Linked DNA regions of Homo sapiens: all the other regions are linked to region 1. The links come from fine-mapping of genetic effects on gene expression. A gene starts in region 1. Each other region holds a variant in brackets. All regions are shown on one strand. Distances are from middle to middle. Region 1 holds the start of NCF1 (neutrophil cytosolic factor 1). Region 2 overlaps RCC1L (RCC1 like). Region 3 overlaps POM121C (POM121 transmembrane nucleoporin C). Region 4 overlaps GTF2IRD2B (GTF2I repeat domain containing 2B). Region 5 has its middle 12 kb from the start of MIR10525.

Evidence for each region. PIP is the estimated chance that this variant, and not a neighbour inherited with it, causes the effect.
Region 2: its variant is the best candidate, but not a certain one, in a credible set for the expression of NCF1 in whole blood (TOPMed, PIP 0.58).
Region 3: its variant is the best candidate, but not a certain one, in a credible set for the expression of NCF1 in whole blood (INTERVAL, PIP 0.80).
Region 4: its variant is the best candidate, but not a certain one, in a credible set for the expression of NCF1 in spleen (GTEx, PIP 0.66).
Region 5: its variant is the best candidate, but not a certain one, in a credible set for the expression of NCF1 in whole blood (INTERVAL, PIP 0.52).

What each region holds. Positions count from the first base shown.
Region 1 is chr7:74,771,433-74,776,535 of GRCh38, forward strand. It overlaps NCF1 (neutrophil cytosolic factor 1), which reads left to right and starts at 2,579. Exons shown (of 11, transcript NM_000265.7): 1 at 2,579-2,671. The coding sequence starts at 2,600. RefSeq lists an enhancer at 860-1,405.
Region 2 is chr7:75,054,001-75,059,103 of GRCh38, forward strand. RCC1L (RCC1 like) reads right to left here. Exons shown (of 11, transcript NM_030798.5): 7 at 4,588-4,769; 8 at 3,529-3,616; 9 at 1,901-2,074. Among named protein-coding and RNA genes, the nearest start is that of RCC1L, 17 kb to the right of the region's middle. The variant C/T (reference allele first, on the strand shown) is at 2,925.
Region 3 is chr7:75,459,797-75,464,899 of GRCh38, forward strand. All of the region lies in intron 3 of POM121C (POM121 transmembrane nucleoporin C), which reads right to left. Among named protein-coding and RNA genes, the nearest start is that of POM121C, 24 kb to the right of the region's middle. The variant G/C (reference allele first, on the strand shown) is at 2,339.
Region 4 is chr7:75,129,990-75,135,092 of GRCh38, forward strand. GTF2IRD2B (GTF2I repeat domain containing 2B) reads left to right here. Exons shown (of 16, transcript NM_001003795.3): 9 at 3,146-3,223; 10 at 5,012-5,068. Among named protein-coding and RNA genes, the nearest start is that of GTF2IRD2B, 40 kb to the left of the region's middle. The variant T/C (reference allele first, on the strand shown) is at 1,973.
Region 5 is chr7:74,605,784-74,610,886 of GRCh38, forward strand. No RefSeq gene overlaps it. Among named protein-coding and RNA genes, the nearest start is that of MIR10525, 12 kb to the left of the region's middle. RefSeq lists a silencer at 715-1,124. The variant A/G (reference allele first, on the strand shown) is at 2,642.

The sequences.
Region 1 (5,103 bases):
ATACAAAAAATTAGCCGGACATGGTGGTGCACGCCTGTAATCCCAGCTATTTGGGAGGCTGAGGCAGGAGAATTGCTTGTACCCGGAAGGTGAAGGTTGCAGTGAGCCGAGATCATGCCACTGCATACCAGCCTGGGGGACAGAAAGAGACTCTGTCTCAAAAAAAAAAAAAAGAAAAAAAGAAGTGAAGCACTTGCCAAGCAAATCTTTCAGAGCAGGTGGAGTGGACCCTACACCTCTTGGATAATAAATGCACTGGATAATAAAAGCAGGAACAGGCCAGGTGCGGTGGCATGTGCCTGTAGTCCCAACCTACTGGGGAGGCCAAGGCAGGAGGACTGCTTGAGCCCAGGAGTTGGAGGCTGCAGTGAGTTATGACCAGGCAACTGCACTCCAGCCTGGGTGACAGATAGAGACCCTGTCTTTAAAAAAAAAAAAAAAAAAAAAAGGGCCAAGCACAGTGGCTCATGCCTGTAATCCCAACACTTTGGGAGGCTGAGGTGGGTGGATCTCCTGAGCTCAGGAGTTCAAGACCAGCCTGGCCAACAGGGTGATACCCCTTCTCTACTAAAAATACAAAATTAGCCAGGCGTGGTGGCGCACACCTGTAATCCCAGCTACTTGGGAAGCTGAGGCAGGAGAATCGCTTGAACCTGGAAGGCAGAGGTTGCAGTGAGCCGAGATTGTGCCACTGCACTCCAGCTTGGGCAACAAGAGCGAAACTTCGCTTCAAACAAATAAATTAACGCCCAGCATGTCTTGGCTTTCATCTGCCAGACCTCAACCCTCACCCCCAGGAGATCAGGTCCGGACCATGAGCTGACCCTGGACTCAGGCAAGGGTGAGTTGGTGCAGCCCTGGCCTGCTGGGAGGCACAGGCTGCAGCAGGCTGCCTGGGGCTGAGGCCCGCCACTCATGAACTCATGACCTTGAATGAGCTCCAAAAGCTCTGGGCCTCCCAGGCTCTAGGGGGAGTGGGAGAGAGAGGCCTCAGCCTGTCCCTGGGCATGCTGCCCCCTCCTCACCTCTTTGTCCCAAATCCCCTTCCTGGCAAAGCTGACAGTCTTAATATCACTCTGGAGAAAACTGAGTCAGCCCTAAGGAACAATTCAATGAACCATTTGCTTACTTGAGGATTGGAACTCAAGTCTCACTCAAAGTCTGTGCCATTTTCGTCCCAGCTGTCACTGGCCCTCATCCACACACACCCAAGGATGAGCATCTAACGCTTGCATGCACACTCCCATGCCCGCGTTCATTCACTCATTCATTCATTCATTCACTCATTCATTGACTCATTCATTCATTCACTCACTCATTCATTCACTCAGTGAATGTTGCAGTCACGATCCAAATATTTATGGCCTCTGTGTGCCAGGCACTAGATGGAGGGGCTGGGGCTAGAGCCCCTGATAACCCGGTCATGCCCTAGCTTTCCTGGGACACACATTGTGGTAAGGGGAGACTAAAAAAATTAAGTCAGGCCAGGCACGGTGGCTCATGCCTGAATCCCAGCACTTTGGGAGGCCGAGGCGAGTGAATTACCTGAGGTCAGGAGTTCAAGACCAGCCTGGCCAACATGGAGAAACCCAGTCTCTAATTAAAAAAAAAAAAAATTAACCAGGTGTGGTGGCACATGCCTGTAATCCCAGCTACTCAGGAGACTAACGCAAGAGAATTGCTTGAACCCAGGAGGCAGAGGTTGCGGTGAGCCGAGATCGCGCCATTGCACTCCAGCCTGGGAAACAAGAGCGAGACTCCATCTCAAAAAAAAAAAAGTGGGAGGCAGAGGCAGGAGGATCACTAGAGGCCAGTAGTTTGAGACCATCCTGGGCAACATAGCAGGACCCTGTCTGTACAAAAAAATTAAAAAAAATTTAACCGGGCATGGTGGCACACACCCGTAGTCCCAGCTACTCCAGAGGCTGAGGCAGGAGGATCGCTGGAGCCCAGGAGTTGGAGGCTGCAGTGAACTGTGATCCCACCACTGCACTTAAGCCTGGATAACAAAGCAAGACCCTGTCTCAAATAACAATAGCAATAATAATAAAGAAAAATTAAATGCAATTTGCGATGCATCAGTGATAAGTGCTCTGCAGAAAAAGGAGGCAGGAAGAGGCTGAGAAAGGTATGAGGTTTGCTATGCAATGTGAAGTTATCAAGGAAGGCTTCTCGGAAGAGGTGACATTTGAGCAGAGAAATGGAGGAGAGTTATGGAGGGAAGATGGTGAATGGGGGGAACATGGTCAAGACCAGGAATATGGTCAAGGGGGGAAAGATGGTCAAGGGGACGCAGCAAATGCAAAGGCCCTGAGGCAGGAGCAGCTTGATTCACCCCCAAAACCCGTGGGGCCCGTGCAGGCGACGGGAAGGACAAGTGTAAACCCTTTTCCTTGTCCCTGCAGGTGTGTGTGAACATGAGTCTGCCCATGTTTACACCCTGCAAGCCTGAAGAGTCCCCAGAAACTGAAAGAAGAAGCAAAGCCCTTTCTGTACCCTCCCTGCCCCCTGTCCCGACCGCGACAAAAGCGACTTCCTCTTTCCAGTGCATTTAAGGCGCAGCCTGGAAGTGCCAGGGAGCACTGGAGGCCACCCAGTCATGGGGGACACCTTCATCCGTCACATCGCCCTGCTGGGCTTTGAGAAGCGCTTCGTACCCAGCCAGCACTATGTGAGTAGCTGGTGGAGGGCATCCCGTGGGGGGAATACGGGAGGGACAGCACGGCCACCCTTGCAGTCCCAGGGCCAACCAGCTCCAGTGAGGACTAACGGGGCAGGGTCTTGGGCACCTGGTCCCTGGTCTTTGAGCCTGGATCTACCCCTCTGATCCCTGGGAAGACAGTTCCCTTGGACCCGCCCTGGGCCCCAGCCCTTTACTGTCCCCGCCTGTGTCCCCAGCCAGGCCCTCAGCCTTAGCCAGGAGTCCTCTTTCTGCTCCCCTGCCATGGCCAGGCAGCCCAGCGCTCTCTCAGGTCCGAGGCCCACTCCTCCAGGAAGCCTTCCCTGACTAGCCCAGCTATCAGAGAGTGGCCCTCCCAAGAGGGAGGCCTGGAAACTAAAGCTCTCTCTCTCCCCAGCTGCCTGTAGTGTCAGTTAGAGTCTTATCCTCTCCAGTAGGGTGACACCATGACAGGGGCCAATAGAGTCCTCCCATCTGTCCCCAAGGAGGCTGGACAAATGCCTGCTCAGACACACAAGTCCACTGGGTCCCCTAATCCCATAGGAAGGCCAGGGAGGAACTACATTTAGGAAATTGAAGCTTGTATGGAACATTTAGTCCTATGTGCCAAGACCTTTCTCTTTTTTGTTATTTTTTTGTTTTTTGAGACAGAGTCTTGATCTGTTGCCCAGGCCAGAGTGCAGTGGCACGATCTCAGCTCACTGCAACCTCCGCCTTCCAGGTTCAACTGGTTCTCCTGCCTCAGCCTCCAGAGTAGTTGGGATTACAGGTGCCCACCACCACGCCTGGCTAATTTTTGTATTTTTAGTAGAGACAGGGTTTCACCATGTTGGCCAGACTGGTCTCAAACTCCTGACCTCAAGTGATCCACCCACCTGGGCCTCCCAAAGTGCTGGGATTACAGGCATGAGCCACCGTGCCTGGCCTGTTTTTTTGAAATGAGGTCTGGAGTGCAGTGGTGCGATCATAGTTCACTGCAGCCTCGACCTCCCAGGCCCAAGTGATCCTCCTGCCTCAGCCCCTTGAGTAGCTGGGGCTACAGGCGCACACCACCATGCCTGGCTAGTTTTTAAAATTTTTGTGGAGATGAGGTTTCACTATGTTGTCCAGGCTAATCTTGAACTCCTCGGCTTAAGCAACCCTCTGGTCTCAGCCTCCCACAGTGCTAGGATTACAAGCGTGAGCTACCGTGCCTAGTCACTTTTCTCCTTTTCTTTGTAACTTTCAGTTTTGAAATTTCAAATTTACAGAAAGGCTACTGGGTGTCAAAACGGTACCAGTCACTCCAATAGTCTTTCACTCACCTTCATCCACACCTCTCTTTCTGGGGATATTTTCTGAATTATTTGAGAGTGAGTTGAAGACGTGTTTCTTTACCTCTAAATACTAGTTGTTGGGCATTTCTTAAAATCAAGGCATTCTCTTACATAATCACAACACACGTGTCAAAATCAGGAAATTAACATGGACAAAACACCATTATCCACCCACAGACTTTACTGAGGTTTCCCCGATTATCCTGCTTGTCCTCTGCAGTGAAAACTTTTTTCAGGTCTAGGATCCAGTCAAGGATCAATGTCATAGCCTTTAACCTTCTTTAATCTGGATCAGTCTTTTTTCTTTTTCTTTTTCTTTTTTTGGACACGGAATCTCACTCTGTCGCCAGACTGGAGTGCAGTGGTGCAATCTCGGCTCATTGCAACCTCTGCCTCCTGGGTTCAAGAGATTCTCCTGCCTCAGCCTCCTGAGTAGCTGGGAATACAGGTGCGCGCCACCATGCCCAGCTCGCATTTTTTGGTAGAGACAGGGTTTTGCCATATTGATTCTGGATCAGTCTTTTTTTTTTTTTTATGAGATGGAGTCTTACTCTGTCACCCAGGCTGGAGTGCAATGGCACAATCTCCACTCACTGCATCCTCCGCCTCCCAGGTTCAAGCAATTCTCGTGCCTCAGCCTCCCGAGTAGCTGGGATTACAGGCATGCGCCACCATGCCCGGCTACTTTTTGTATTTTTAGTAGAGACAGGGTTTCACCATGTTAGCCAGGCTGATCTCGAACTCCTGACGTCAGGTGATCTGCCCGCCTCGACCTCCCAAAGTGCTGGGATTACAGGCGTGAGCCACCGTGCCAGCGGATTCTGGATCGGTCTTAATCAGTCTTTGTCTTTTGCAACTTTGATGTTTTGCAGAGAGCAGACCAGTTACCTTGTAGAATGTCCCTTAGTTTGGGTTTATCTTCATTAGATTCAGTTTGTGTATCCAGGGCAGTGGATCTTAGATGCAATTCTGTCTTCTTTTTAATTTTTTTGAGAGGGAGTCTCGCTCTGTCACCCAGGCTGGAGTGCAGTGGCACAACCTCAGCTCACTGCAGCCTCCGCCTCCCGGGTTCAAGCAATTATCCTGTCCCAGCCTCCCAAGTAGCTG
Region 2 (5,103 bases), 280 kb after region 1:
CAAGCAGTCCTTCCACCTCAGCCTCCAGAGTAGCTGGGACTACAGGCGCACACCACCACACCCAGCTAATTTCTGTATTTTTTGTAGAAAAGGGATCTCACTATGTTGCCTAGGCTAGTCTCGAACTCCTGGGCTTTGAGGGATCCTCTCATCTTGGCCTCCCAAAGTGCTGGGATTACAAGCATGAGCCACTGCACCCAGCTAGCCCTTAGGTGTTTAATAGAACAATTCGGCCTGGCTCCCCAAAATGCTAGCAGACCACAGGATAAACCAACCAACTCTAATTCCCAGATGGCTATCTGCAAATGCCAGGCACACAGGCAGGAAGACAGCTAGGCTCTGTCTACCAACAGGCAGTAACTCACCCTTAGAAGGAGGCCTGTTAAGTCTCGGGGAGAAATCCAGAAAGGAATTTCATTTCGCTGTGACCTGAAATGGCTACATGGCATGAGGGCAAATAGAAAAGCCTCTGCTCTAGTCAAATGCTTCACACAGATTTCTAAACATGTGTCTCTGCCCATAGTTGAGGCCTTAAGAACTTTCTGGAAAGTAGATATTTGTTTCCCCCAAAATTAGTCCATACGACTCTTATTTATCAAATCAAAATAGCTTTAAGAATTCATGACACTGAATTAGCCGGGCGTGGTGGTGTGTGCCTGTAATCCCAGCTACTTGGGAGGCTGAGGCAGGAGAATCGTTTGAACTCGGGAGGCGGAGGTTGCAGTGAGCCAAGATCGCGCCATTGCACTCCAGCCTGGGCAACAAGAGTGAGACTCCAACTCAAAAAAAAAGAATTCATGAGACCTACACTCAGCTGCAAATGCAAGTGGCCACTCTGGCTGGGCAGTGGCCAGGAATTCTCTGGCTTAGTCATGACCACTGCCACTTCAGTGCTTCAGCCTAGAGCCAGATAAAACTCCAGCTGGCAGCCATAACAACCCAGGCCTGCCTGTTTGACGGCCTCTGGAGCCTGGAATTCAGACAATAAGTGAATAGCAGTTAGGACCCTGGTACAGAGGGTGAGCATCTGGGACAGGCCCCACGTGGGAATGAGGCCAGAGAACTCAACCAAAGATGACACCAACTGACTGTCCCGGCCTGGATGTTTAAAAAGAAAACAATTACTTGCCATGAGATGAAAAGATTCTTTTAATTGCAAGGAAATAACTAATTTACTTGAGAATCACAGAATGAAATTAATTCAGGACAGTTTTACTATTCGAGTCAACTAAAGAGCAGCAAATTGAACCCACGGTAACTGTGGTGGAGTAAGAGATGTAACCAAGAAAAGGACACATTCCTTACCCTTACCCTGCAGGGTAAGCGGATATTCTGTGGCTTTGTAATCTGGCAGGCCTTTGGGAAAAACCTCCATTTTGCTCTCCCCTTTCATCATTCTCTACCCCGGCACTTTGGAGAAATCGGTAGATTTACCTCCGTGAAACCACGGGACAGTCTGACAAATCGGCCTTTTGCCATCCCATATCCTGGGTCAGATCAGGGTCTGGGCTCGGCCAGGGAATGGGATTAAGCCCCACACATTCACTTCCTAATCACCCACCCATGGATCCGCCAAGCCTCTGCTGGTTTCCTCCAGCACCCGACGTACTAGCAATGCCCCTTCCTACCACCGACGGGTGCTCTCTTGAGAAAATGCACGTTCACGTTAGCCTACCCACAAACCAAACGAACCAAAATTAAAACTCCAGGGGGGGAAAACAAGACATTATACAACCTCGAGGCAAACAACTTCTGGCTTAGCCCTTGCTTGAGTTATCAGTACAAAGGCGCCGTTCTGTTGGATGGGTGGAACCTGAGAGCTGCCCGCAGTTTGGGGTTGAACTGGAGACAGAGAACCTCTGCTGGGCTCACACCAGGGCCACCGGGCTTGGTAACTTACTGGTCAGTGCAGCAAAGTGGCTGAGTCCACATCGGATGCGGGAAACCTGGATTTCTGGGTTGAACTCCGTCAAGCCAAAGAGAGTGGGTGGAATCATTTCAGGGACGGCACTTTCCACTAGGTTTGGACCTTTCCCAAGAATTCCATAGCCCCAGACAAAAACATGTCCTTCTCCTACATTACAGTAAAAACAAGGGTCAGTAAGTCCATCCAAGTAAGAACCTCCCTCACCAGAAACTCAAACTACACCACCAAGGTTTATGACATCCACACGGTTTTTTTTTGTTTTTTTTTTGTTTTGTTTTTTTCCTCCTTGCTTGGCAAGAACATGCAGACAGAGATTTAGAATAATAATTCTCTCTCCCCTGCTTAAATTCTTGCTGGGGGAGTCTGTCTCGCCAGCTCTCCTGGCTCAGAACACAAACTTCCCACATCTTGAGGGTTAGTAACCTGGAAGGGACGAGCGTATAAATCATCCAGAAAACCCATACGAATACCAGAGAATTGGAGGATGTTTTCTCCCCCTAATGACAGCTCTGTGTTTCACACTGATCAGAAGGCCAAACACATCAACAATGTCTGGCCAGATTCTTAAAACTCTTAGAAATGATGTTTTGGTTATAGAAAGTTTAATATTCATCAGTGGTGCCAGATATTTCATCGTTATCCAAAGCTGAAGGCTGTTCTCCCATCTGCCTTTGATTTTTTGGCTGGAGAAGGCAGAGCTGGAGTCTCTCTGGCCCAGGCTAAGGGAGGGGAATGAAGTAGTTCGCTCTCCACTCCAGAGGTTTGCTCTAGGATGACTCAGCTCTGTGGCCATGTATCTACAGATAAATCGCAGACTATTCGCTTTTTGTTAAGAACTTCATTCACACCCTGTAATGCCATCTTCTAATCCAATGCCATCTTCCCATGGCCATAGTCCCTTCCTTTTTTGAAACAGGGTCTCACCGTGTTGCCCAGTGCAGTGGCATGATCATAGCTCACTGCAGCTCGAACTCCTGGGCTCAAGGGACCTTTCTGC[C/T]TCAGCCTTCTGAGTAGCTGGGACTACAGGTGTGCACCACCATGCCCAGCTAATTTTTCATTTTTTCTTTTTCTATTGAGACAGAGTCATCCAGGCTGGAGTGCAGTGGCGCAATCTCGGCTCACTACAACCTCTGCCTCCTGGGTCCAAGCAATCCTCCCACCTTAGCCTTCCAAGTACTAGGATTACAAGCATGTACCACCATGTCTGGCTAATTTTTCTATTTTTAGTAGAGTCAGGGTTTCACCACGTTGGCCAGGCTGGTCTTGAACTCCTGACCTCAGGTGATCTGCCTGCCTTGGCCTCCCAAAGTGCTGAGATTACAGGTGTGAGCCACCACACCCAGCCTTCCAGCTAATTTCTCCATTTTTTGGTAGAGACAGGGTCTCGTTATGTTGTCCAGGCTGGTCTGGAACTCCTGGCCTCAAGCAATCCTCCTGCATCAGTTCCCCAAAGTGCTGGGATTACAGATGTGAGCCACCGCGCCCAGCCATGTTACCCTCCTAAGGCTAAGGTCTACGGCCTGCAAATCCAATGGACACTGACCACTCCCTATGTAATCTACCTACAGCTTCCCAATGAGCCACCGGAAAGAAGGTCTCACCGTTTAACACTGCACAGCCCGTGCCACCGCATGCAGCCTGTCGCACCTTCCCCACTCCTGAGAAGTGTAAGCAGCGGGGCACATTCACCTGAACCAAAGAAAGGAGCCACACTGTTAGGAAAGCAAGCCAGTAAGGACCGGGAAGTGTTCTGGTCTTAGGTACAGAGTAGCTGAGTCCTAGTTCATTCATTCACTCCACAGATACTTCCTGAACATCACATGCCAAGCATCATACTAGGTGCTGGGGTAGAATGGGAAGCAAAAGAGGCCCAGTTTCCACCCTCAGAGAGTTCTAGTCTAGTGGACGAGGCAGATGTCAACCAAAATTAACATAAAATGACATTTGTGGCCGGGTGTGGTGGCTCACGCCTGTAATCCTAGCACTCTGGGAGGCGGAGGCAGGTGGATCACTTGAGGTCAGGAGTTCGAGACCAGCCTGGCCAACATGGTGAAACCCTGTCTCTATTAAAAATACAAAAGTTAGCTGGGCGTGGTGGCAAGTGCCTGTAGTCCCAGCTACTCGGGGGGCTGAGCCAGGAGAATTGCTTGTACCCAGGAGGTGGAGGTGGTATTTTTGTATTTTTTTTTAGTAGAGACGGGGTTTCACCAGGTTGGCCAGGCTGGTCTCGAACTCCTGACCTCAGGTGATCTGCCTGCCTTGGCCTCCCAAAGCGCTGGGATTACAGGCGTGAGCCACCACGCCCAGCCTATTTGCTCTTTTTTTTCGAGACAGAGTCTTGCTCTGTCACCCAGGCTGGAATGTGGTGGCACGATCTCAGCTCACTGCAATCTGCAAGCGATTCAATTCTCATGCCTCAGCCTCCCCAGTACCTGGGATTACAGGCATGCACCACCACACCTGGCTAATTTTTGTATTTTTTTGGTAGAGATGGGGTTTTGCCATGTTGCCCAGGCTGGTCCTGAACTCCTGACCTCAAGCCATCTGCCTGTCTCGGCCTTCCAAAGTGCTGGGATTACAGGTGTGAGCCACCACACCCGGCCCCTTAACACTTTAATGTTTCCAAACCTCCCAGCACCACGCTGTCGGCGACTGCATACCTGTGTGGAGTCAGTGACAGAGGCCAGCTGCAGGTACTCCGAGTTTCCCCAACCAAAAAGTCCTCCGTCGGCGGACACGGCCAGGCAGCAATCACCGTAGGTGGCAACTTGGATAACGTTCACTCCCGCCAGGTCTCCACCCAGCTTGGTGGGCGAGCTGGTGATATTGTAGTGACCCAGACCTAACACAGTGGAAAATACAGATTTTTAATTATTCGCTCTTTTAACAAACACATAGGCAGACTTACTATATGCCAAGTGCAGTTTTAAGCACTTAACAAGTATCAGCTCAGAAATCCCAGTCTGGGGCTGGGTGCAGTGGCTCACGCCTGTAATCCCACCACTTTCAGAGGCTGAGATGGGCAGATCACTTGAGGTCAGGAGTTCGAGATCAGCCTGGTCAACATGGCGAAACCCTGTCTCTACTTAAAAAAAAAAAAAAAAATTACAAAAAAATTATTAGGGCATAATGGTACATGCCTGTAATCTCAGCTACTCAGAAGGCTGAGGCACAAG
Region 3 (5,103 bases), 690 kb after region 1:
GTTCTCAATGAATGTAGAGGTGATATTCAAGACAACAATACCATAAAGAAGGGCAGAGGGGCCTAGAAAGCAGTAGAGTTTCTACATTCCACTTGAATTGGCAAAAGGTTGATACTAGCCAATGATCATAAGTATGTATAATATAATCTCTACAGCCACCTATAAAATCCTATACAAAAATATATACTAAATGGCATACTGAATTGATTTAGCATGGCATATGAAGTTAAATGGCATACTAAGAAATGTCTAAGTACCCCATAAAAAGGCAAGAAAAGGGAAACAGGTATAAAAAAACCCAGAGGGAACAAGTAGAAAATAGATAATAAAAACCCGTCCAAAATTAAATATAAATCTTCTAAACACAGCAATCAAAAAGGTTGTTGGAATCTGTTTTTTTAAAAATGACTCATGGCCAAGTGTGGTAGCTTATGCCTATAATCCCAGCACATTAGGGGGCCGAGGCGGAGGGAATCACTTGAGCTCAGGAGTTTGAGACCAGCCTGGGCATGATAGCGAGACCCCATCTCCACAAAAAGAATAAGAAAAAAAAAGATTAGCCAGGCATGGTGGCACATACCTATAGTCCCAGCTACTCGGGAGGCTGAGGTGAGAGAATCACTCAAGCCCAGGAGGTCAAGGCTGCAGTGGGCCGTGACTGCACCACTGCACTCCAGCCAACAGAGTAAGACTCTGTCTCAATAAATAAATAAATATCAATAGTCACATAAGATGGCAGAGTAGGAAGCTGTAGTGTAGAGATCAGTCCCTTCACTAAAGCAACCACTGAGCTAGAAAGAGTGATTGGAATCAGCTCTTTTGGAATTCTGAAACATGACCAGGAACTCCTAACAACCAGAGACATACTTAAACAATGAAGAGAGAGGCTGCTGATCTTCACGAGTGAGTGGCATGTGCCAACCAGCCAACACTCCCCCATTCCTGAGCCTGAGTTCCCGAAGCAGCTGGCTGATGCCAGGGCGAGCAGCGGAACTCTGTCCTCCAAAACCATGGGTTCTGCACCTTGGTGGGTCCAATGGGTCTCTGAGGACCAGCCCGGATGCTTGCCTTGGTTTATTTGGCCCTCTCAGCAACAGTGGCTTCCCCAGGGACATCCTTCAGAAGATTTTATCAAAGAGACAAAATCCTCCTCTGCCCCACCCCATTTAAAGCCATCTATTTAAGGAAATCCATGTTAGGTGGCTGGCTGACTGCAGAGATAATGAAACAAATTTCAGTGACCACACAAGCACAAGGAAGAAACACTTTGCAAAAATAGTTTGGAAAAGTAACAAAAGGGGAGCTTCAGACCTCAACAAGCAAAACCCAGCAATCCCAGGTGACTGAGAGAATCACATTTTGAGGGTCATTACATTGTAACACTTAAAATGCAACGTTCTCAACAAAAAACCACAAAATATACAAAGAAACAGGAAATAGGAAGCTTAGACCATTCACAGGAAAAAAACAGCAAAGAAAATCAGCAAACAATACAATAACTGAACACCATCATCGACCAATGGAACCTAACTGACATTTACAGGAGACTTCACACACTAACAGCAGGGTACACATTCTTTGCCCATGGAAGATTCAGCAAGATTTACCAGAACCTGGGTCATAAAACAAATGTTTTTCTGAGATGGAGTCTCTTTCTGTCGCCCAGGCTGGAGTGCAGAGGTGCAATCGGCTTACTGCAACCTCCGCCTCCTGGGTTCAAGCAATTTTCCTGCCTCAGCTTCCAAGTAGCTGGGATTACAGGCATGCACCACCACGCCTGGCTAATTTTTGTGTTTTTCAGACAGGGTTTTGCCATGTTGGCCAGGCTGGTCTCAAACTCCTGACCTCAGGTGATCTACCTGCCTCGGCCTCCCAAAGTGATGGGATTACAGGTGTGAGCCACCATGCCCGGCCAAAACAAATCTTAAGAAATGTAAAATAACTGAAATCATACAAAATACGTTCTGTGACTGTAAAATAATTAAACTAAATCAATTTTAAAAAGAAACCAGAAAATCTCTAAACACATGGAAATTAAATACACTTCTAAATAATTCATGGGTCAAAGAGTGAGTCGCAAGGGAAACTGGAAAACATATTGAATTATGTAAAAGTGAAAATATAACATGTTGACTGGTATCAGCAAAAATGGCAGAGTAGGTATCTCCAAGTCCCCATCCCCCCACAGAAACATTGATAAACCAAGCAAAACTGTCTGAATCAACTTCATGAGAACTGTAGAAAAATAATCAAAGGTTTACAATAACCAGATCATCTGATGTGGCTCTTTGTCCCCAAGCACATCTCATCCTGAATTGTAATCCCCAGGGGTCAAGGA[G/C]GGACCTGGTGGAAGGTGACTGGATCACGGGCGCGGTTTGCCCTATGCTGTTCTCGTGATAGTGAGGGAGTTCTCACGAGATCTGATGGTTTTTAAGTGGCAGTTTCCCCTGCACTCTCCCCTCTCTCCTGCCAGCCAGTGAAGAGGGTACTTGCTTCTTGTTAGCTTTCCACCATGATTGTAAGTCTCCTGAGGCCTCCCCAGCCAAGTGGAACTGTGAGTCAATTAAACCTCCTTTCTTTATAAATTACCCAGGCTCAGGCAGTTCTTTCCAGCAGTGTGAAAACTGACTAATACTCCAAATGAACACTGAATCAAGAAAAAAGCAACTTCAAAATGGTAGGAAAACTGGGTTATTTTACTTGCCCTTGCCCCACAACCTTCCATGGTTCAGTGGGAACCTTGAAGATGGCAGCCCACATTCCCAGTGTGGTTTCTGGTATTGAAGGCAGCAGAGCAGACCTTATTCTCAAAGCATTTTGTTTTCCCGTTCTCAGCTGCCTGAGGGCTGCCAAAAGAACTGATACAGGGCAGCTGCCTTTGTTTCACCTAACCCAGAACTCACACAGGGCAGAAAAGTGGCTACACAGAGGGTATTCCTTGAAAACACTGTAAATCAAATGCATACCCTGCTGATGCCTAGGCAAAAGATTACAGTTGAGGCAAACTATAGGTGTGCTGACAGCATGGGAGAAGAAGCTGTGGAGAGTTTCTATGGGAAATTTGGGTACTGAAATTCAGACCTGCCCTTGTGTACTATGGAATTTCAGTAGCCATGCACATGCTGAGTGCAGAGCACATTCTCAGAATAGACCTGAGAAAGGATGCTGAGCTTTCATCTGTGGCTCCTCTCCATCCTCCCTGCAGGCAGGGAGTAAAGCCTAGGGCAAAGCTGTACACAGACTGGGCCGGGTGCGGTGGCTCACGCCTGTAATCCCAGCACTTTGGGAGGCTGAGGCGGGTAGATCACTTGAGGCCAGGAGTTTGAGACCAGCCTGGCCAACATAGTGAAACCCCGTCTCTACTAAAAAATACAAAAGTAAGCCGGGTGTGGTGGAAAATTAGCCAGGTGTGGTGACACAAGCCTGTAATCCCTGCTACTCAGGATGCTCAGGCAGAGAATCACTTGAACCTGGGAGGCAGAGGCTGCAGTGAGCCAAGATCGTGCCATTGTACTTCAGCCTAGGCGACAGGGCAAGACTCCACCTCAAAAAAATAAATAAAAAGTTGTACACAGACTGGCTAAGCCCTGAAGGACTGCTCCAGTGCCCCAGCACAGTGGCAATCCACAAAGATGGAAAGAGCTGGGTTTTTCTTTTTTTTTTTTTTTTTTTTACCTTTGGCATCTGGCATTCAAGGAAATCTCTGTTAAAACACTAGTTGAACACAAGCTAACGGCAGAGAGACTTTCAGAGACCGCACATGTAAAAGAAGACACACTTTGCAAAAATGTTTAGAAAGTCACTGAACAAACAGCTACAGCCCACAGCAAAAGCAAACCCAGGGGTGGTGGGGAGGATAAAATAATTTCCAGTTACCCCATTATAATACTCAAAATGTCTGATTTCCTTTTTTGAGACGGAGTCTTAGCTCTGTCATCCAGACTGGAGGGCAGTGGTGCGATCTCGGCTCACTGCAACCTCCACCTCCCTGGTTCAAGCAATTCCCCTGCCTCAACCTCCTGAGTAGCTGGGATTATAGGGGCATGCTACCATGTCTGACTGTTTTTGGATTTTTAGTAGAGATGGGATTTCACCATGTTGGCCAGACTGGTCCTGAACTTCTGACCTCAGGCAATCTGCCCACCTCGGCCTCCCAAAAGTGCTGGGATTACAGGCGTGAGGCACCACGCCTGGACTCTTTTTTTCTTTTTAATTTTACTTTTTCTTTTTTTGGGGAAAAGGGATTAGAGGTGTGAGTCACTGTGCCTGACTCCAATTTTCAAAAAAAAATTACAAACCATGCAGTGACATTAAGAGAGTACAGCCCATTCACAAAAGAAACAAATTGTCTTTAAGGAAGCACAGACATTGAAAGTACTAGACAAAGACTTTAAATCAGCTGTCTGAAATCTGCTCAAAAAGCTAAAAGAAACGATGAATAAAGAGTTAAAGGATACAAGGAGAACAATGTCTCAACAAATGCAGAACATCAATAAAGAAATAGAAAATATTATAGACAGGTGAGGGGCAGTGGCTCATGCCTGTAATTCCAGCACTTTGGGAGGCTGAGGCGGGCAGATCACCTGGGGCCAGGATTTGAAGACCAGCCTCAGCAACATGGCGAAACCCCCTCTCTACAAAAAATGCAAACAATCAGCCAAGTGTGGTGGCATGCGCCTGTAGTCCCAGCCACTTGGGAGGCTGAGGTGGGAGAATTGCCTGAGCATGAGAAGTCAAGGCTGCAGTGAGCCAAGATTGCACCACTGCACTCCAGCCTGGGTGACAGAGTGAGACCCTGTCTCAATAAAAGAATTTATTATAGACAAACTAAAGCTTAGAGAAAAAAAGAAAGGAAAAAAATAGAAATTATTGAAAGGAATCAAAGTCTGAAGCTGAAAAGTATACAAAAATTAGCCAGGCATGGTGGCGGGCACCTGTAATCCCAGCTACTCGAGAGGCTGAGACAGGAGAATTGCTTGAACCCAGGAGACAGAGGTTGCAGTGAGCCAAGATCGCACCATTGCACTCCAGTCTGGGTGACAAGAACGAAACTCCATCTCAAAAAAAAAAAAAAAAAAAAAAAAAAGTATAGAAATGGAAATG
Region 4 (5,103 bases), 360 kb after region 1:
CAGGCTCCTGAGAGCTGGTCCTCAATTGGTCCTTATTTCTTGTGATATGTGTGTAGCATTTGCTACAAAAACAAACCATCTCCCTGGTTTTAATTTATTTTCTCTTTCTTTCTTTCTTTCTTTCTTTCTTTCTTTCTTTCTTTCTTTCTTTCTTTCTTTCCTTCTTTCTTTCTTTCCTTCTTTCTTTCTTTCTCTCCTTCCTTCCTTCCTTTCTTTCTTTCTTGTCTTGCCAGGCTGGAGTGCAGTGGCACGACCTCAGCTCACTGCAACCTCTGCCTCCCAGGTTCAAGTGATTCTCCTGTCTCAGCCTCCTGAGTAGCTGGAATCATAGGTGCACGCCGTCACACCTGGCTAATTTTTTTGTATTTTAGTAGAGGCAGGGTTTCACCGTGTTGCCCAGGCTGGTCTCAAACTCCTGAACTCAGGTAATCCACCCTCCTCGGCCTCCCAAAGTGCTAGGATTACAGACATGAGCCACCGCACCAGGCCAATTTTTTTTTCTTTTCTTGAGACAGAGTCTCGCTGTCGCCCAGACTGGAGTACAGTGGTGTGATCTCAGCTCACTGCAACTTCCGCCCCCCGGGTTCAAGTGATTCTCCTGCTTCAGCCTTCTGAGTAGCTGGGATTACAGGTGCCCACCACCACACCTGGCTGGTTTTTGTATTTTTAATAGAGACGGGGTTTCACCCTGTTGTTCAGGCTAGTCTCGAACTCCTGACCTTAAATGATCTGCCTACCTTAGCCTCCCAAAGTGCTGGGATTACAGGTCTGAGCCACTGTCCCCAGCTGAAAATCAGATTTTTAAATGTTTAGCTTCACTGTCCTTATACCAACAGAGCTGTTAAAGGTTTTCAGACGACCCCTCAGAACTTATAAATTATGTTAAACAATGAACCCCAAGCTATGCCACAGTTTTTTTGTTTTGCTATTACAAACATTCATGGTTAAATTACATGTACATTTTAGTATCAGTCATCTATTGCTGTATTTAAAAGTACCCCTGAAATGAGGCTGGGTGTGGTGGCTCACGCCTGCAATCCCAGCACTTTGGGAGGCCAAGGCAGGCGGATCACCTGAGGTCAGGAGTTGGAGACCAGCCTGGCCAACGTGGTGAAACCTTGTCTCCACTAAACATACAAAAATTAGCCAGGCGTAGTGGTGCGCATCTGTAGTCCCAGCTACTTGGGAGGCTGAGGCAGGAGAATCACTTGAACCTGGGAGGTGGAGGCTGCAGTGAGCCAAGATCATGCCATTGCACTCCAGCCTGGGCTGGAAAGAGAAGGGGAAGGGCTCCAATGGAATGGAATGGAATATTTAGTCTTTCCTACATTTCTGTGTGTTGGCTGGACTGGCTCAGCAAGGGCCGGATGGCTGTGTGTCTGAGGCCCCGGCTGGGACATCAGGGTCTCTCTCCTTGTGGCCTCATACCCTTTGGAGGCACCCTAGGCTGGCTCCCATGGTGATGAGGTTCTAGAAGCAGCAGGCACAGATGATCAAGCTCTTCTCAAGCCTCTCTTTGCATCCCATCGGCTGATGTCCCATTGACCAAAGCAAGTCACACAGCCAGGGCCAGATTTAAAGGGCAGAGAATGGCCTGGCGCCGTGGTTTACAGCTGTAATCCCAACATTTTGGGAGGCCAAGGCAGGCAAATTGCTTGAGTCCAGGAGTTCGAGACCAGCCTGAGTAACATGGTGAAACCTCATGTCTACAAAAAATACAAAAATTAGGCAGGCGTGGTGATGCATGCCTATAGTCAGCTACTCAGGAGGCTGAGACAGGAGGATCGCTTGAGCCCAGGAGACAGAGGTTGCAGTGAGCCATGATCATGCCACTGCACTCCACTGGGCAACAGAGCAAGACTCTGTCTCAAAAAATAATAACAAAATGGCAGAGAAACAGACTTTACTTCTAGAAAAGAAGCATGGGATAGTCACATTGCAAAGGGATGTACATCCTGGGATGGGAGAGGTC[T/C]TGAGCTAATTTTTGCAGCCAACCGCACCCTTCTCTGATAAAGGCGTTAGGTTGTACTGATATAGCTTCTCCAGGTTTTGAAATCCATTCCATTATAGTGAGTAAGTTAAGATTATAAGTGCCTAGCCGGGCACGGTGGCTTATGCCTGTAATCCCAGCACTTTGAGAGACCAAGGTGGGTGGGTGGATCACCTGAGGTCAGGAGTTTGAGACCAGCCCGGCCTACATGGTGAAACCCCGTCTTTACTGAAAATACAAAAATTAGCCAGGCATGGTGGCGTGGGCCACTTGGGAGGCTGAGGCAGGAGGGTCACTTGAACCTGGGAGGTGGATGTTGCAGTGAGCCGAGATCATGCCACTGCACTCCAGCCTGGGCAACAGAGTGAGACTCTGTCTCAAAAAAAAAAAAAAATGGTTATATATGTCAGTTCAGGCTTCATGACAGAAGAATCTTCACAGCATTTCATGTAAATGCACGTGGATATTCAGCCACCCTGAAGGGGAAAATCTCCCAAAACTAGGACTAGAATCAGAACTAAGCTCTCCCGCCTTCACGATGCCTTCCTTCATCCTCCTCTCCTTCCTTCTTTTTTTTTTTTTTTTTTTTTTTTTGAGATGGAGTCTCGCTTTGTCAACCAGCTGGAGTGCAGTGGCTCGATCTCAGCTCACTGCAACCTCCACCTCCTGGGTTCAAGCAATTCTCCTGCCTCAGCCTCCCATGTGGCTGGCTACAGGCGTCCGCCACCACTCCCAGCTAATTTTTGTAGTTTTAGTAGAGACAGGGTTTCACCATGTTAGCCAGGTTGGTCTCAAACTCCTGACCTCAAGTGATCTGCCCGCCTCAGCCTTCCAAAGTACTGGTATTGGAGGCATGAGTCACCGTGCCCGGTCCCCTCCTTCCTTCTTTCCTTTTCTATTGATTTTACAATTGATATTATTTTTATATAAACATACATAAATACACAAATGTATGTTTTCTATATGTATATTATTTTAATTTATAGTATTTCTATTTTTGTATCAAGAGGTCAAATTTGTTCATAGTGAGTGAGCTACAAGTTCTTTTGCTGATTGTAACATTGCTGTATTAATCAACTTATATTAGCTAGTCGTATTTCTTTGTTGGCAAACTTAACCTAACATACAATTTTATCATTTCCATTACATTCCAAGGCATTTCACTGAAAGCAGAAGCTGTCTCAGTCAAGAAAGAATCAGAAGATCCTAATTACTATCAATATAATATGCAAGGTAATACTGTTTGATAATAATTTTCTTCCCCAAAAGTTATTTGGGATGGAAGATTTTAATTACTACCTGTCTGAAAAACTGGCGAGCACCCATGTGTGTTTACCTAGGATCAAGCATGCTGCCATTTAGAGTAAATAATCCTACAGTTATAAAATAGATTCTATTTAGCCTAAATCCATGTACTCTTTTGTTTGTTTTTTTACAGAGATGAGGTCTCACCTTGTTGCCCAAGCTGTTCTCTAACTCCTGGGCTTAAGTAGTCCTCCAGCCTTGGCCTCCAGAAGTGCTGAGATTATAGGCGTGAGCCACCATGCCTGGGCTAAATCCACATACTCTTTTTTTTTTTTTGAGACAGAATCTCACTCTGTTGCCCAAGCTGGAGTTCAGTGGCACTATTTCCACTTACTGCAAACTCTGCCTCCTGGGTTCAAATGATTCTTGTGCCTCAGCCTCCCAAGGAGGTGGGATTACAGGCGTGTGCCACCACGCCTGGCTAATTTTTTGTATTATTAGTAGAGACGGGGTTTCGCCATGTTGGCCAGGCTGGTCTCGAACTCCTGACCTCAGGTGATCCACTCACCTTGGCCTCCCAAAATGCTGGGATTACAGGCATGAGCCGCCACACCTGACCCATAAGGCTTTTAAAAAGAAGTCATAAATTGTCACGACTGTCATGATTTTGCACCACCTAATGAAGCAGTGCATCTTGGCAATAATTGTCAGTGGTCATTAAAACCATTTTATAAAAGTCTGATGGGGACTTTATCATGGGCAGACCTGACTGACAGTTCCTGAACTGACTGGTCACTGGTCTCCTGACGGTATCCAGTAGGAAGTACACCACACCACCTTTGTCAAGGATTCTTCCAAAAAAAAAAAAAAAAATCAAACCTGGCCAGGTGTAGTGTCTCATACCTGTAATCCCAGCACTTTGGGAGGCCAAGGCAGGTGTATGACTTGAGCCCAGGAGTTCAAAACCAGCCTGGGCAACATGGTGAGACGCCGTCTCTACAAAAAATACAAAAAGTAGCCGGGCATGGTGGCACACACCTGTAGCCCCAGCTACTTGGGAGGCTGAGGTGGGAAGATCGCTTGAGTCTGGGAGGTCAAGGCTGCAGCGAGCTGTGATCACACCACTGCACTCCAGCCTGGGTGCTGGAGTGAAACTCTCTCTCAAAACAACAACAAAACAAAACAAAACAATCAGACCTAAGTCTGATCCAGCCTTTAGATCTAACCAGCAGTTTTTAGGAGATGCATGGAATACAGGCACATATGAAAACATCACCACAAGGATGTAGTCAATAAAATCCAGAATGTGAGAAACTCAGAGAAATTAATTGGTTTATGTTTTTTTTGTTTGTTTTTTTTTAGACAGAGTCTCGCTCTGTCGCCCAGGCTGGAATGCAGTGGCGTGATCATGGCTCACTGCAACCTTCACCTCCCAGGTTCAAGTGATTCTCCTGGCTCGGCCTCAAGAATAGCTGAGATTACAGGCATGTGCCACCACACTCGGTTGATTTTTGTATTTTTTTGTAGAGAAGGGGTCTCACCATGTTGGCCAGGCTGGTCTCGAACTCCTGACCTCAGGTGATCTGCCCGCCTCCACCTCCCAGAGTGCTGAGATTACAGGCGTGAGTTACCGCGCGCAGCCAGTTTTATTTCAAGGGGTAGAAGTATTTCAGGTGTATTCCTGCGTGGGTATTGACTTGTTTGCATTGTATTCAGTGATTTCTTTTTACATTTTTGTATTTCTCCTTTGTTATATATTATTTATTTTTCTTTCAGGAAGCCACCCTTCTTCCACAAGCAATGAAGTAATAGAAATGGAATTACCAATGGAAGGTTAGAAAAATGCAGCATTTTTTCTCTCTCTTTTA
Region 5 (5,103 bases), 170 kb before region 1:
AGAGAGAGAGAGAGAGATGGCAGTGGTTTGGGCCAGGTGGAGAAAATAACTAGAGGGTCAGCCAGTCGGGTGGACGAGGGGTTCTGGAGAGTCAGGGGTCAGGGTGGTCCCAGGATCTGGCTCTAACCGTCCACCCAGGGCCCAGAATGAGGCCTGTGGCTTGGAGGGACTGAGTTCTGAATCAGCTGAGGAAATGGTCAAAACTTTAGTCCAGGGCTTCTGCCAGTCCTCAGGGTCAGTCCCATCCATGCCCAGAGCTGGGAGGAAGGCCCCATCCCAGCCTTCCAGACCACACTTCCTCCTGGAAAGACGCTAGAAACCACGTGCCTGGCACAGCCACCCCCTCTCCGCTGGTGCAAACCCCCCACCCAGTCAGCTGCCAGCCTCACCTTCCTCCCTCCCACCTCCTAGTGGCTCCCAGTGCCACCAGGCGCCTCCACTCCACCCTCAGCCCCTGCCCTGGGCCGGGCCCACTTTTTCCACTCCAGGATGGGGGCAGGAGTGACCTCCTCAACTGGCCACCACCTCCAAGCAGAAACTGCCTATGAAGTCAAGATGATCTGAAGAGTCCTTGCAGCTGCCACCTTGCCTTCAACCCTCACGTCCTGTAACCCATCCCCCACCCCCGATCCTGTGACTCTGGATTTAAAATCTGTTTTGCTTTCCTTGCACCCAGTGCAAGCATCTAGGTGCGGCGTTCCAGGCGCCTCGCAGGGGGTCGGGTCCCCAGCCTTCTGTCCCACCGTTCCGTCCCCCGGGCCCGGCCCACCTGGCGCCCCCTCCCGCCCGCCACCGCCCGCTGGCGCCTGTCGGTCGTCTAGACCCGCCGCCCCCGCTCCACCGCTCAGATCCGCGGCCAGAGCCGGAAGTGGCTCCTGCCCCGGCCGGGAGCGGCGGGGCTGAGACTGTGCCCGCGGGCACTGCCATCCCGTGCATGGAGAGGGCGCAGAGCCCGGGGGTAGGGCGGGCCGGGGAACCCGATCCTCCTTCATCCGCGCAAAGGCCCGCGAAGCTCCCAATCTGTTCTCTTTCAGGCTCACTGTGCAGATGGCGTGCAATTAAGTGGGTCGGTGCAGCAAACCCTCGTATCCTCCCGCTTCCCTAAAAGCAGAGGATTGAGCCGCTGCACTCCAGCCTGGGCAACACAGCGAGACCCTATGTCTTAAAGAAAGGGCAGAAGTGGGGACCCCTCTCCCACCCCCTTCCCCTGCTCCAAGCCAAAGCGTTTGAAGCAAGAGGTTGCCTCCTGTGAGTTTCCCCCAGTCCCTGGAGGCCTGGGCTTTGGGAGGTGTGTCCAGGCAGAGGACAGAGGTCTTGTGCAAAGGGCCGCTTTTCCCTTCGCCCACCCTGCGCCCGCCCAGCCCCTTATCCGATGGGAAAGCCTTACTGACTCTTTTCCTCGCAGAAGCGCCCAGATGCTGTTTATGCAACCTCTCCAGAATCTCAGTGTACTGTACTTTTTAAAAAGTGATTTGATTCAAAGCACTCATTCTTTAATTAAACTTCATTTAGCTGCCATCTGTCTCGGTTCGAAATGGCTTCGTGTTTTGCAACTCTAAATGAGAATTGTTATTGGATTTGTAAACACATCCCCAAAAAAATCACAAAACACTTTCAAAAGTAATAAATGAAGGACGGTTAGGAGCTGCATCTTAAACGTTCTAATTGCCGGGGAATGTATTCTGGTGGGTACACAGTCATTTTATATACAAATCATTGTACAAAAATCTGGTATCAATGAAAAGATCAAGATTATAGAAAATGCTGGAATTATATCTGACTGAAAACAGTAATAAAGCAATAATTGGCGCAGGGACGGGCCACAAAACGAGACGGGGCACCTGCTCCCCTCGGGCCACCCTCCCGCACCGCCCAGGTGCCTGGCTTGGTGCACTCAGGGGAGGGTTGGTCCTGAGCTCTCCTGGCTGGTGCTTCCAACGGCCCTGCGAGGTACCTCTTTTTAAGGAACCAAAGCGTTATTTATCTTCATTATTAATTATTACTTTTTTTTTTTCTAAAAGACAGGGTCTCGGCCGGTCGAGATGGCTCACACCTGTAATCCCAGCACTTTGGGAGGCTGAGGCGGGCGGATCACGAGGTCAAGAGTTCAAGACCAGCCTGGCCAACATAGTGAAACCCCGTCTCTACTAAAAAATACAAAAATTAGCTGGGCGTGGTGACGGATGCCTGTAATCCCAGCTACTCGGGAGGCTGAGGCAGGAGAATCGCTTGAAACCAGAAGGTGGAGGTTGCAGTGAGTGGAGATCGCACCGCTGCACACGCCAGCCTGGGCAACAGAGCAAAACTCCATCTCAAAAAAAAAAAAAAGGCCGGGTGCGGTGGCTCACACCTGTAATCCCAGCACCTTGGGAGGCCGAGGTGGGTGGATCACAAGGTCAGGAGATCAAGACCATACTGGCTAGCATGGTAAAACCCCGTCTCTACTAAAAAACATACAAAAAATTAGCCGGGCACCTGTAGTCCCAGCTACTCGGGAGGCTGAGGCAGGAGAATGGTGTGAACCCAGGAGGCGGAGCTTGCAGTGAGCTGAGATCGTGCCACTGCACTCCAGCCTGGGTGAGAGAGCAATACTGCATCTCAAAAAAAAAAAAAAAAGAGACAAGGTCTCTTTGTGTGGCCC[A/G]GGCTGGAATGCAGTGGCTCGATCATAGCTCACTGAAGCCTGGAACTCCTGGGCTCAAGTGATCCCCCCGCCTCGCCTCCCAACTGGCTGGGACTTCAGGCACATGCCACCATGCCCAGCTAATTTTTCTTATTGTAAAGACAGAAGTTCACTATGTTGCCCAGGCTGGTCTTAAACTCCTGGCCTCAAGGGATCCTCTCACTTGGGACTCACAAAATGCTGGGATTACAGGTGTGAGCCATTGCACTTGGCCACTGCCCTGTAATTTTTAAATTTCATCATCTTCCTAAAACTCATGGCTGGGCATGATGGTGGGCACCTGTAGTACCAGCTACTAAGGAGACCAAGGTGGGAGGCTCACCTGAGCCCAGGGATTCAAGGCTGCAGTGAGCTATAATTGTGCCACTGTACTCCAGCCTGGGCGACAGAGCAAGACCCTATCTCAAGTAAATAAATATCATTTTATTAATATCAAGTATCATTCGTTCTTTTTTTTTTTTTTTTTTTTTTTTTTTTTGAGGTGGAGTCTATTCTGTCACCCAGGCTGGAGTGCAGTATCGGGATCTTGGCTCACTGCAACCTCCGTCTCCCAGGGTCAAGTGATTCTCCTGCGTCAGACCCCTAAGCAGCTGGGATAACAGGCTTGCGCCACCACGCCTGGCTAATTTTTGTATTTTTAGTAGAGACAGTGTTTCACCATGTTGGCCAGGCTGGTCTTGAACTCCTGACCTCAAGTGATCCACCCGTCTCAGCCATCCAAAGTGCTGGGATTACAGGCGTGAGCCACTGCACCCAGCCTACAATAACTTATTTTTTCTGTCATTATTTTCTGCTTCTCTGCCTGCTTTATGCTTTATGATGTCAAGGACTGTGTCCATTTTATCCACCGTTCTATCCTAGCGCCTACGTCCAGGACATACAAGGTACTCACTAAATGTGAGCGAGTTGGTGAAAGAATATAAACTACACCGGTCTCCTGGAAAATAAGAGGGCCCTTAAATCTTTTTTTTTTTTTTTTTTTTTGAGACAGGGTCTCACTCTGTCACCCAGCTGGAGTGCAGTGGCGCGCTCCTAGCTCACTGCAGCCTCCAATTCCCAGACTGAAGTGATCCTCCTTCCACAGCCTCCCAAAGCACTAGAATTACAGGCACATGCCACTGCACCCAGCTGCCTTAACTCTTTTTTTTTTTTTTTGAGACGGAGTTTCACTCTTGTTGCCCAGGCTGGAGTGCAATGGTGCAATCTTGGCTCACAGCAACCTCCACCTCCCAGGTTCAAGTGATTCTCCCGCCTCAGCCTCCCGAGTAGCTGGGATTACAGGTATGTGCCACCACGCCCGGCTAATTTTGTATTTTTTAGTAGAGATGGGGTTTCTCCATGTTGGTCAGGCTGGTCTCGAACTCCTGACCTCAGGTGATCTGCCTGCCTCAGCCTCCCAAAGTGCTGTGATTACAGGCAAGAGCCACCACGCCCGGCCTGCCTTAACTCTTTAAATCCTCCTGCTCCAGTGATTCCAGTAACCTCCTTCCCCCAACCTCAGCCCCAGAATCCATCTGTAGGGGAACTATGACTTGTGCCTCCATCAGTAGAATTTGCTTTCTCTATTTCTGGTCATAAATTGGAACTCCATAGAAATCCTATATTTATTTATTTATTTATTTATTTATTTATTTATTTTTTGAGACGGTGTCTTGCTCTATCACCCAGGCTGGAGTACAGTGGCACAATCTCAGCTCACTGCAACCTCCACCTCCCAGGTTCAAGCGATTCTCCTGCCTCAGCCTCCCGAGTAGCTGGGATTACAGGCACCCGCCACCACGCCCGGCTAATTTTTGTATTTTTAGTAGAGACAGTGTTTCACCATGTTGGCCAGGCTGGTCTTGAACTCCTGACCTCAAGGGATCCGCCCACCTCAGCCTCCCAAAGTGCTGGGATTACAGGCATGAGCCACCATGCCCGGCCCATTACGCAAGAACTTTTATGTGCTCTGTTAATCCTCACAGCCCTGCAAAGTAAATATTATTTCTTCATTTCACAAATGAAGAATCTGAGGTTCAGAAAGATGAAGGGCTGAGTCCAGGGTTACACAACTAGAAAAGATGAAGCACCAGGCTTGGCTTCAGAGGAGACCGCCAGACTGACTCAGGCGGCTGAGCACTGCCCCAGGCGAACCCCGCAACTTGGGGCTGGACAGAGCTTCTCTTTCGGTTTCCCTAATGTGTTTGAAAGAGAGTAACAGAGGTACATTTGAAAAGAAAAACAGAGGGCCGGGCGCGGTGGCTCACGCCTGTAATCCCAGCACTTTGAGAGGCCAAGGCTGGCAGATCATGAGGTCAGGAGATTGAGACCATCCTGGCTAACATGGTGAAACCCCGTCTCTACTAAAAATACAAAAAATTAGCCGGGCGTGGTGGCAGGCGCCTGTAGTCCCAGCTACTCGGGAGGCTGAGGCAGGAGAATGG